Linked DNA regions of Homo sapiens: regions 1 and 3 are each linked to region 2. Evidence: fine-mapped expression QTL. A gene starts in region 2. Each other region holds a variant in brackets. All regions are shown on one strand. Distances are between the middles of the regions.

Region 1 (4,242 bases), 970 kb before region 2:
GTCATTTTCGTGTTTGCTTGTTTTCTCTGTCCAGTCATGTGAAAAAAGTTGGCTGGGAGGTTTTTTCTTTATTATTGTTGTCTATGACACAATCGCTACATTATACTGGAGCCTTTTGAAAAGCCGGTGTACAGCTCAACTGCCCCATTACCATTGTGCTTGAATGGAACACGATGTAGCCTTAGGGAAGCCCAGGATTCTCTACAGTGGCATGGGAGAGGGGCTGCTGTCTTCAGAATTTTCAGAGAATATGCCAAAACCTGTACAGGCAACACGGAATTCTCAAGGGCCTCTGTCCTGTTTTTTATGCAAAGGATGAATCTCAGCTCTTGAAAATGCTGCTTTTGAAATCATGTAAATGATTACAGGCACCCTGACTTACAATGGTTCAATTTACATTTTTTTTTACTTTACCATGGTGCAAAAGCGCTATGCTTCCAGTACAAACCATACTTTGAGTACCCGTACAACCATTTTGTTTTTCACTTTTAGTAGAGTACTTAATAACATAAGATATTCAGCCAGGCACAGTGGCTCACGCCTATAATCCCAGCACTTTGGGAGGCCGAGGCAGGTGGATCACCTGAGGTCAGGAGTTCGAGAGCAGCCTGGCCAACATAGTGAAATCTCCTCTCTACTAAAAATACAAAAATTAGGCACACATGGTGGCAGGCGCCTATAATCCCAGCTATTCCGGAGGCTGAGGCAGGGGAATTGCTTAAACCTGGGAGGCAGAGGTTGCAGTGAGCCGATATTGTGCCACTGCACTCCAGCATGGGCAACAAGAGCGAAACTCTGTCTCAAAAAAAAATTGTTTAAATCATGAGATATTCAACTCTTTATTATAAAATAGGCTTTAGGTTAGATGATTTTGCCCGACTGTAGGCTACTGTAAGTGTTCTGAGCATGTTTAAGGTAGGCTAGGCTAAGCTATGATGTTTGGCAGGTTAGGTGTATTAAATGCATTTTTGAAGCAATGATATTTTCAACTTGTCAATTGGTTTACCAGGACATAACTCCATCATAAGTCAGGGAGTATCTGTACACCCTGGGAAATAGTGACCCAAGAAGTTTGTCTTCTGATACATTTCTAGAACTGAAATAACAAAGGTGAGGATGTTACACCCCAAATGGAGTTCCTCTCTGCCCAAATCTTGATAATCTTGATGTCATGGACAGAGCACAGCCTTCCAAACCAAAAAGTTCTGGCTTAACTCTTGCCCATGACACTGGCCAGCTGTACTGCAGAGCTTTCCTGGCCCTGCTTACTCATCTATAAGATGGGGGAAAATAGGGCATAGCTCACAAGTGGTGAAAAGAATGATAGAAAACAATTCAAATGAATTTTCATTAACAAATCTTTCTTGAGTGCTTACCATGCATCAGGCACCAGGCACTGTTCTAGATACATAGGATAGAGCAACAGTGAGCAAAACTGATTGTGGCCAGGTGCAGTGGTTCATGCCTGTAATTCCAGCACTTTGGGAGACTGAGGCAAGAGGATTGCTTTACCCCAGGGATTTGAGACCAGCTTGGGCAACATAGCAAGACTTCATTGCTACAAAAATCAAAAAACAAAAAATTAGCTGGGTTTGGTGGTGTGCGCCTGTAGTCCCAGCTACTCAGGAGGCTGAGGTAGGAGGATCACTTGAGCCTGGGAGATGTAGGTTGCAGTGAGCTGAGATTGTGCCACTGCACTACAGCCTAGGCAACAGAGCCAGACCCTATCTCAAGGCCAAAAAAAAAAAAAAAGAAAGAAAGAAAACTAATGCATGCAAACTGCTTAGCACAGTGCCTGATCACTGAAATGACCAACATACAGGTCTGAGCCCTCATGTCAGACTAATGCTTTGCTTCTAGAAAGTCTGGTCTAAATCCATGATCTATCTCTGAAATCATTAGACTCAGCCATCAAAACTTATTGAAAGCAATATAACTACAGGACTAAACCAAGATTGCGGTGCCTTATAGGAGTCTCTAAACTTTTCTGCTCCTTTGGGATGAATAGTAGGCAGAAACCATAGCCCATCTTGCTGAAAGATGGGTTGCGTTATTGGGGTGTATGGGTTGCAGGCAATGCCACCCCTAGGCATGATGAATCAAGGTGTTTGGGACTCCACCAGTAAAAGGAGCTAAGCATTGCTGAGTAATAATAGTGGAGGTCATCATCTAAGAGGGAAAGAGGTGAACTACATCTGTTCATAGGTGTATAGAAATCAGGCTGTGACTCATCTTCCTTAGTACCATTGAGCCAGTCACAAGAGGTAGGTCGTTCCAACACACACACAGCACACTTTGTATTTATGTTCCAAGCACTGTTCTAGATCCCAGGGATACGGCAATCACATAAACTCTCTTTCACACCCTTGATATATTTATGGGCTAGAACAGGGTCTACAACCTTTTTCTGTAAAGGGCCAGGTAATAAAT[A/G]CTTTAGGATTTATGAGCTACCCCATCGTTGTTGGACTTCCTCAACTCCATTCTTGTGTAGGGAAAAATGCCAGCCCTATATACTGTGTAAGTGATTGTGCATGGCTGTCATCCAATTAAACTTTCTTTACAAAAACAGGTGGCAGGCCAGATTTGGCCAGCAGGCTTTAGTTTACTGACCCTTGATCAAGAGAGGAAGACAAATATGTTACCAGATAAGGACAACAAAATGTGAAAAATGCTATGATAGGGATAAGCAGGGAATGGGTACTGCTATGGTCTGAATGTTTTTGCTCCTCCTCCAAATTCATATGTTTAAACTTTATTACCATGGCAGCAGTATTAAGAAGTGGGGCCTTTGTGGGGTGATTAGGTTATGAGGGTTCTGTCCTCATGAATGAGATTAGTGACCTTATAAAATAGGCCTGAGGAACCTGTTTGGCCCTTCCAACCTTCTACCACGTGAAGACAAAAAATTTGCCCCTTGCATCATATGAATACTCAGCAAGAAGGTGCCATCTAGGAAGCAAAGAAGAGGGCTTCACCAAATACTGAATCTGCAGGCCTTTGATCTTAGACTTCCCAGCCTCCAGAACTGTGAGCAATAAATTTGTTGTTTATAAATTACCCAGTCTAAGGTATTTTGTTTTAACAGCACAAATGGACTAAGAAAGGTACCTAACCTGCCTGGGGGTTTCAGGTAAGCCTTCCTGTTGAGGAGCTGGTCTTGCAATTGAGTGTGGGGAGGGGGGGATGTTTCTCATTTCTTTGCCCTCTCTGAAAGAGCAGACCCTCTGAGGACCACTACTTTTCAGTTTGGAAGACTATTGCAAAAGTCAGGGGAGAGAATATGAAGACCTGAATTGGAGCAATAATTTTAGGAATGGAGCAGAGGGGAAGATTTCAGGACTATACTATTTTACAGGTAAAATGGACAGGTCATGGTGATAGAATATGGGGAAGGAGGAAATTGAAGTGTGTCAAGAGTGGTTACCACGTTTCTGACTAGGGTGGTTGGGCAATTTTCATCAAGGCAGGGAATTCGGAAGAAGCATGATTTTGAGGTAAGAGGATAAGGTTTTATTTCTTTGCAGAAAACCGAAGTGGACGAGTCCAACAGGTGGCTAGATATCCCTGAGTCCTGATGCTGTCAACCCAGCTATTAGTAGAAACTCCTAACTGGCCTCCCTGTCCCCTGTCTTGCCCCCCTTATATCAACCCATCCTCACTCAGCTGCCATGATGTTCAATCTGAAACACCAATCTGACTGTTATTCCCCAGTTAAATATTCTTCAATGATTGTCCATCCTCTATAGGATAAAAATTTGATGTGTTACCTTGCCATGGATGGTTCTCTAAAGCTGGCCCCTGCCAACCTCTTCAGCCTCATCTATCACTGCCTGCTTCCCCTGAGCTCCTCCGCAAGAAGTCAGAGCCGAGCCCAGGCCCAGGCGAGGGGTTTGATGATTCAGTGCAAATAAGGAGTGCTAAGTCTGTGCCTTTGGAAATTGGACCCTTTCAACATGAGCAGAATTAGAAATGCTTATCCTCAGTTGCAGAAATAGAATTTCAGTTTCAGCCCAGGAATCCTCAGCAAGGCTATAAAACTCAGACTGGCAAACAGGTTATTACAGTCAAGCCCCGTCACCAACATGCCCTGCACCTTCCACGTTTCCAAAATTTGCAGAGGAAAGAAGAACACCATCAGGAGTGAAGCCTCCTCTCCCATTCTTTTCTCCCATTAGCTATACCTGGTGAACTCAAGGCACCAAGGACATAAAAACGAACTCCTCTTCCCATAAACTCCTGGGA
Region 2 (4,242 bases):
AAATTCTTGGGAGGCCATAAAGGGTTTTGTCTGTCCTGTGTACAACTGACCAATAAGGGAAGGGAAGCAGTCTAGGCTTTAAATAGCTTCTGAGTGTCAGGGAAGGATAGCTCTCCTCAACTAGAACAATGAAATATCCTTTAAGGGAAAGGTAGAATGCCTCAGAGAGTTCAAAATAAAAGAATCCATTCTAACATGAAACTTACCAAGATGAGGAAGAAGTTATTAAAATCTTTCCTGTAAGATCAAAAGGTACTTTTCCTGTAAGTTCCTTCAACCTATCCTGGTAACTTGAAGCATTTTATTAGCAAAAATAAAAGGGGCAAACATTATCAAGCATTCCAAGCTTATCAGCTTTCCGTATAGGGCAAATCACTGGGAAGAACAGTAAATGTCATCACTCTGCAGGTGGCCAGGAATCGGAGTACTCCAGCCAGCCACAGCCACTGGAGTTCCAAGCCTTCCCAAAATAGCTATGACTTACATACAAATGCTCATCAAGTAGCTCACACACAGTCTCAAACGGAGAATGCTGAAATAGGGTCACTACTCAAACTGCGGCAGAGGTAAATGAAGATGCCACTGATTAATAGGCACATGGTCTTAAATGACTGAGCCACGACAAATTTAAATATGACTTCTCTCTCCCTTAAAATAGTCTCTTCTCTAAATCAATATGATAGTCTCCAAACTAAAATTTTCCCATGTTTTTAAATCACTGTGCTAAAAACAAATAGAACTGACCTCTGAAGCCAGAGAAAAATCTTGACACATTTCAATAGGCACTTGTGAACATCTAACAATATTTCCATTAGAAGTCAGTGCATGATACTTTCGTTTCGGAGCCCAGGACCTGGAAGTATCTTTTTCTACATGAGTTTTAAAAAGCGCATCCAGGCTGGGCGCCCTGGTTCACGCCTGTAATCCCAGCACTTTGGGAGGCCGAGGCGGGCGGATCATGAGGTCAAGAGACCGAGACCATCCTGGCCAACACAGTGAAATCCCATCTCTACTAAAAATACAAAAATTAGCTGGGCGTGGTGGCACGCGCCTGTAGTCCCAGCTACTCGGGAGGCTGAGGCAGGAGAATCGCTTGAACCCGGGAGACGGAAGTTGCAGTGAGCCGAGATCGCGCCACTGCACCCCAGCCTGGGCGACAAAGTGAGACTCCGTCTGGAAAAAAAAAAAAAAAAAAAGTGCGTCCAGACTGGGCGCGGTGGCTCACGCCTGTAATCCCAGCACTCTGGAAGGCCGAGGCGGGCGAATCACCTTAAGTCGGGAGTTTGAGACCAGCCTGACCAATATGGTGAAACCCCGACTCTACTAAAAATACAAAAATTAGCCGGGCCGGTGGCAAGCACCTGTAATACCAGCTACTCAGGAGGGTGAGGCGGAGGATGCAGTGAGCCGACATCGCGCCACAGCACTCCAGCCTAGGCAACAGAGGGAGACTCTGTCGAAAAAAAAAAAAAAAAAAAAAAAAAAGTGTCTCCATGCTAAATACTACTGGCCTTCCAGACAAAAGAGTAAAAAGGTATAAAAGGATTCTCACCTGAGGGTATCTGTCTGCCAGCTTTGTACGACAAATATAGTTTCTCATCTCCAAACTCGTATTTGAACAACTGGCACAGATTTCCCGTTTTCTCTTGAAAAAGTGCAGTACTTGAGGGGTGAGGAGGTGGTGTTAAGTTATAACATTCCGAAGTAACACTAGAAGACATGCTCAAATTGCCCTCTTCCCAAGTTTCTTCATACAGACATTAGCTTTTCTCTCAAACCAGGGTTCTTTCACTCTCACCAGATTCTTAGATCAGAAGTCCTTATATTGATTTCAATCTTCTTAGACATTGGGAACAGGAGATCATCATCAGTAGACTTTCTATTCATCACGCAGCTCCTCCCCCTCCTTAAAAATCTAGAGCGATGAAGGCAATAATTGGGGAGGCTGCGCTGTTTTGTTTTTAAAGCCGGGTTGGGAGGGAGGGAAGTGGTGGTAACTGGGACCCCTGGTCTTATAGAAGACGGTGATTAATTCCGGACTTTAAGTGAGATAACTTCGGTCTGCTTTAACCTTTTAAAAACGCCGCCATAAAACTGATTTAAAAGTCAAAGCAAAACAAAACCAACCAACGCTGCCGCTTTCGGAAGTTTCTCACCCCGGACGGGGCCCAGGAGGGCTCACCTTACTGATCCCTGCGGCGGAGAACCCCACGTCCAGCCCTTTATATTTGGTTTTCCAAAATCTGGAAATCCCCCTACAACTTCAGCTCGCCCACGGACGCGAAGATGCAGTCCTCAATCTCCGCGGCCCGAGCCCCGCAGAGCCCTTGGCCTTCTCACCCACGCTGGCGGGCGCACCCCCTGTCCCGCCCGGCCGGGGCGCCCTCCGCAGCCCGCAACCCGCAGCCCTGCAGGCCCCGCACGCTCCCCTCAGGGCCTGGAGCCCGCCCCCAGCTCCCGCTCGCCGCCGCGGAGCCCACCGAGCCGTGGCCGTCTGCCGCGCCGGCCGCGTCGTCCTGCTGCAGCTCCGCAGTCATGGCCGAGGCGCCCAGCCGCGGGTCACCGGTCTCCCGCCGCAGCCGCCGCCGGCCCAGCCTCTCAGGACTAGGCCCCGCCCCCGCCCTCCACCCCGCTCCGTCCCGCCCCCGCCCGCAGCGCGCGCCGGAGGCTTGGCCCACATGCCCCGCCCCCGGCATGCGCGCGCACGCAAGGCGCGCGGCCCGGGGCCGAACAGTTCTGCGTGCTCCCGCGCACGCCCGGCTGACCAGACGTCGGTCACGTGATCCCGGCCCCGCCTGTCGCTGTTGGTCAGCTTCACAGCCGGTGGAGGCTGCGGGCCGCGCTGCCAGTGTCCGGGAACTGGGTTTGCGAATCCTGGGAGCCGCGTTCCTGAGTCTTCTCCGCTCTCTGCCCTCAAAACCTCATTTGTAGGACTGACCTCCGGCTCCACCCTCCCCACGGGCGAGTTAAAACTGTTCCCCCGCCGTGGGAAACTGCCGAATGACCGTGGAATAAAGGATTTCCCATCAGGCTTTGTAGCCATTTCCAACTCCAATGACATGAAGAAGTGTTCACCATCTTTAAGGAGAGAAGGAGGATGAATGCAGTCGCTTGTCTAAAGCTAACCAAACGGACCAAAGCCTCCGTTCATGGGTGTCCCGCTTGGTGCCCTTAACCCTGATGCTCTTAACCTGGGCATGATAAGGAAAATTGCAGTTTTTCCATTTTCGATTTTCAGAAGTTCAAACTAAAATTTTGTGTTACTTTGTTACGTTTGAGCCAGATATTTACGATTTCATGTTAAAAGACCAGGTGCTCCTATTGAATTGTTTTTTGTTTGGTTGGTTTCGGTTTGTTTTTTTTTTTTTCTTTTTTTTTGAGACGGAGTCTCACTCTGTCCCCTCAAGCTGGAGTGCAGCCGCACGGTCTCGGCTCACTGCAACTTCCGCCTCCTGGGTTCAAGCGATTCTCCTGAGTAGCTGGGATTACAGGCACGCTGTACCACACCCAGGGTTTCACCATGTTGCCCAGGCTGGCCTCGAATTCCTGACCTCAGGTGATCCGCCCGTCTCGGCCTTCCATAATGCTGGGATTATAGGCGTGAGCCACCGCGCCAGGCCTGAATTGTATTTTCAACAACTGTGTGGGAATTGTGATTACTGAACCATGTTTCACATTTAAGATACAAATGTGTTATGATGGCAAACCCACTTGACAGGCTGCTGGGTGTCCCAAATCTGCGTAGAGGCTGAGTGTGGAAGCGCGTCTTTTAAGAGTAGCACCTACACCCTTGCCCTGGTCTGGTCTGACTCTCAAGCTACACTTTTAAGTGTGAATTTAACATGGACGGTGGCCTTTCCTATACTCCTGGCATTGTTGTCGCTGGGATTGTTATGTTTCACCTGCAGGCCTCCCTAGTCTGCATGCGGGCGCAGTTTTTGACAAAAGGAAACAGGTACAGGTCAGGTGCAGCTCCCAGGAGAGGCCAGATTACTCTCTGAGGCCTGAACTAGGACTCCTGCAACTTCCACCACCTGGAGATACAGGGATCCGCTTCCCCTGGCAGATTAACTGGCAGATTGGCATGGCTGCGGTGATACTAACTTGGAATCTTCCACATTCAACAGGCTGACTGTGTTTGTGTCTGCGAGTAGTAGGACATTTTATGTATGTGGCTCTGCCATTTTTCCTTTCCTCATGAGTGACTGTGTTTATGGCCTCAACCTGGGTGTCACTGTAGAA
Region 3 (4,242 bases), 64 kb before region 2:
CATCTTTTAGGAAGATCACCTTTGGAGAATGGTTTTCATAAAGTCTACCTATTAACCCTATCATAGTTTCTCCCATAACCTGGGAAATAAGCAAAACTATATACACAGTGAAGGTCACAGGTAGTTAGTCTTTCTGATACTGCTTCTGTTCATCAGAAATCACATTCTAATGCCACAATTCATTCCATCAGGTTGTACCTGGCATACCAACTGTATATGAAATATACTGTGAAGACTGTGGCATCACCTAGCCAGCTGAAGGGTATAGGGCTGGCTAGGGGAGTACAGCATGAGATGTTACTGGATCACTGGCATAAATGCCTTCTCAGATACCTTGTGATGTAGAGTAGTCCTGTGATGAGGAGTTGGTGGAGGACTCCATTTGAGGGATTTTGCAAGACTGCTCTTCTTCCCACTCCTCTACTTCCTGCTCAAACCGCCAGTTATCCTCCTGAATGTAATGCTTGAGTTCCACAGATAGGGCTTCCACTTCTGACATTTGATCTGATTCAGTTGGGGCTGCCTCTGAGGAAAAGCAAAGATAGAGTTAAAAGGTCACAAGGAACGAAAACATCCTTTTTAGAAAAGAAGAAAGCAGGGTATTTCATCTTTATCTTACTCCTAACTAAAAATACATGCACATAGAATCCATCAGAAATGCAGGCTGAGTATCTCTTATCCAAAATGATTGGGACTAGAACTGTTTTGGACTTCAAATTTTTTTCATATTTTAGAAAATCTGCACAATTAGTTATAGTTGAGCATCCCAAATCCTAAAATCCAACATCTGAAATTCAAAATGCTCCAATGAGCATTCCCTTCCAGCATCATGTAATGAAAAAGGCTCATAAAGTTTTGTGGATTTTGGAGCATTTGGGATTTTGGATATTCACATGTGGGATGCTCAACCTGTATGGACAATGTAAGGGCAACAATTGATAACAGTGCCTGACATTTAGTAGGCACTCATTAAACATCTGCTAAGTGAATGAATAACACAGAGTTAAAGATATGGAAAGTGGGCCGGGTGCAGTGGCTCACGCCTGTAATCCCAGCACTTTGGGAGGCCAAGGCAGGCCAATCACTTGAGGTAGGAGTTCAAGACCAGCCTGGCCAACATGGTGAAACCCTGTCTCTACTAAAAAAAATACAAAAATTAGTCAAGCGTGGTGGCGCATGCCTGTAATCCCAGCTACTTAGAAGGCTGAAGTGGGAGAATCGCTTGAACCTGGGAGGAGGAGGTTGCAGTAAGCTGAGGTTGCGCCACTGCGCTCCAGCCTGGGAGACAGAGTGAGACTCCATCTCAAAAAAAAAAAAAAAAAAAAAAAGATTTGGAAACTGGTCACTGTCAATCACTGGATATACCAATCATTTCAGGGAAATTCAGAAAATCATTAGAGCCAATAAAAATTTCAAGATAAACAGTTTTATCCATTTAACCACTGCATTTGGCGGATAAGAATGTCCATTTCAAAAAGGTTAGAGATGAATTTCAAGACATTTATACCACCAACTTTCATACAATTCAGTACTATGAGAAAGCAATTTGATACAATGGTGAAATGGTCAATAATACCTGGCTTTAATGGCAAGGATATCAATGACATATAAAATTTCATTTTCTAACCCTGTGACCAAAACAAACAAAAAAAGTCTATAGCAGATTAACACATTCACTTACTGGTTGCCATTAATCAGCCTTTTCACTAAGCAAATGACAGTTTCCACTTGTTTGTTTCTATAATAGAAAAATAAACCATGCATGCAATAACAAGGCTCCTATATATTAACAACAGCTAGTACATTCAAGCAGCTATTCATTCCTTCGCAGCATAAATATACAATTGTGAAGA[T/C]TACTTACTGTTCATTTATCATTCTCTCCATTCCCTAATCCCCAACCACACTAGCAAATCAGAAAGATAACGTGCTGCCTGGACAGAACACCTTACATGTTTGTTTTTTTTGAGACAAAGTCTCACTCTGTTGCCCAGGCTGGGTGCAGTGGCACGATCTCAGCTCACTGCAACCTTTGCCTCCCAGGTTCAAGCAATTCTCCTGCCTCAGCCTCCCAAGTAGGTGGGATTACAGGTGTGTGCCACCATGCCCAGCTAATTTATGTATTTTTAGTAGACACAGGGTTTTACCATGTTGGCCAGGTTGGTCTTCAACTCCTGGCCTCAAGTGATCCGCCCGCCTTGGCCTCCCAAAGTGCTGGGATTACAGGCGTGAACCACCATGCCGGGGCGATGTTTCCTTACTTACGCCACACAGTAAAGTTTGAATACTACAGGCAAAAGCTTTCTACTATCTTACTTATAAAATGTTCATCATAAGACCTCTCATAGAGGATGTGAAAGAAAGAGAGAATAATGTAAATTGAAAACACCACAGAATTTGGAGAATTGTATTTGAATCTTGGGACTGCCATTTATTGACTATGTGATTACTCAACTTTAGAACCCTTTGGAATCTGTTATCCAGCTGGAAAATGAAGATGACAACATTTTCAAACTCTTTCCCTCCTTTTCACAGCTGTAAGTTCTTAGAGAAATAAAAGTTTGAAAGCATGCTTTAAGAAGTAAAGTACCAATATAAATGATAATTATTATTGCTCTCTGTATGAGTAGTAGTATTACAACAACTGTGAAACTATTCAGGCAAATACACCTGTAAAATTTAGTTATTCTGGGCCCCACAACTGTAATCCCAGCACTTTGAGAGGCCGAAGCAGGCAGATCACCTGAGGTGAGGAGTTCAAAAACACCCTGGCCAAGATGGTGAAACACCGTTTCTACTAAAAATACAAAAATCAGCTGGGCATGGTGGTGGGCACCTGTAATTCCAGCTGCTTGCGAGAGTGAGGCAGGAGAATCACTTCAACCTGGCAGGCGGAGGTTGCAGTGAGCTGAGATTGCGCCACTGCACTCCAGCCTGGGCGACAAAGCAAGACTATGTCTCAAAAAAAAAAGAAAGAAAAAATTTAGTTATTCTCCAAAGGGTGCAAAAATATATGTACTATCAGCACCATAAGATGGGGCAAGAAAAAAAAAAGATGTCACTAAAAACAACAACAACTAGAGAATTAGTCTATCTACGAGTAAATTTTAAAAATACGTATATTCCACACAATGAATTACTATATAGTTGTTAAACAGTTAAGATTCTTTTACTAAAAATATAGAGATTGCTAAATACTCGATTAATGAAAAAGGTTCAGAGTTGAATGGAAAAATAATCTACTTGGGGAAAAGGGGGAGGGGAAGATACAGATAAATAGAATCTAGCATATGTATACAATGTGTCTTGAAGACTACATAAGAAACCTAACATTGTGTACTTGTTGGGAGTGGGACCCATGGTCAAGGAAGAAAGTAGTAAAGCAAACTTGTTTTTCCTTTTCATTTCCTTTTATACTGTCTATATTTTTTAAATCTATTATTATATAATAGTAAGTTGTAAATTTTTTAAAAAGCAGTACAAGACTGTTCTTCTCCCTGAGCAGTACAGATTTTCCCCAATCTATAGATTCTGCCAAGATACTTTTACCTGCATTGAAGTAGGGTAGTTTGTCATTAATGTACATCAGACAGTAAGCACTAACATTTCTCAGGCCTCCATAGGAATCTCTTTCAACTTCTTCCCAGGAAGATTCAGTAACAGAGATGTCATTGTACTTGAGCCAGCTCTGTCGGGGTTGATTATAGATATAGGCCCAATAGTGTCCAGCATTTGCTTGTCCTTCATGAACAAGAACTGCATGCAAGCGATAAGGCACCTGTAAGTCAGAATGTACATTCCCCAGTCAGGTGAAGCAAAGTAATCTGATAAAGTTTAGGTTATTAAGAAATTACTGTTTATGATGTGATTAATGTGGGGTTCATATTAAAACATCTTGTTGATTCAAGATGAAGTCCACAAAAACACAGCCTTGGAATTGATCAATTATGTCTCAGTTCCAAAACCTTGAAAACCAGATCGCTGAACTACATGACCTCTCTGAAGACTCTTTCAACTCTAAACTCCTCAGATCTAAAACCAAACATAACCTAAACATATGCATCCTTCTAATTCAAAACTCTGTTTATCTAAAAATAGAATCACCTTGACCACTCATGCTGAAAATGCTTAGCATATTTGGGACCTACAAAGGTTAGCAGCTATTTTGTTCCATGCCTATTTTATTTGGCAACAAAATTTAAGTTAACATATTTAATTCAGCCACATGCTTCTTAGAGTTAAGTG

Which allele goes with the higher level. Positions count from the first base shown, and alleles are read on the strand shown. Sizes are in standard deviations (SD) of each study's normalised expression. Not every link is listed here.
With allele A in place of G in region 1, the expression in liver of the gene that starts at base 2,608 in region 2 is higher (large effect, 0.78 SD a copy in GTEx).

The links.
Region 1: its variant is fine-mapped to the expression of USP28 in liver (GTEx, PIP above 0.99).
Region 3: its variant is fine-mapped to the expression of USP28 in whole blood (INTERVAL, PIP above 0.99).

What each region holds. Positions count from the first base shown.
Region 1 is chr11:112,903,441-112,907,682 of GRCh38, forward strand. No RefSeq gene overlaps it. Among named protein-coding and RNA genes, the nearest start is that of NCAM1, 56 kb to the right of the region's middle. The variant A/G (reference allele first, on the strand shown) is at 2,431.
Region 2 is chr11:113,872,965-113,877,206 of GRCh38, forward strand. It overlaps USP28 (ubiquitin specific peptidase 28), which reads right to left and starts at 2,608. Exons shown (of 26, transcript NM_001346252.4): 1 at 2,481-2,608. The coding sequence starts at 2,537. RefSeq lists enhancers at 496-996, 2,583-2,877, 2,867-3,116, 3,167-3,828 and silencers at 2,307-2,666, 2,687-2,846.
Region 3 is chr11:113,808,730-113,812,971 of GRCh38, forward strand. USP28 (ubiquitin specific peptidase 28) reads right to left here. Exons shown (of 26, transcript NM_001346252.4): 16 at 3,547-3,775; 17 at 334-525. Among named protein-coding and RNA genes, the nearest start is that of CLDN25, 31 kb to the left of the region's middle. The variant T/C (reference allele first, on the strand shown) is at 1,854.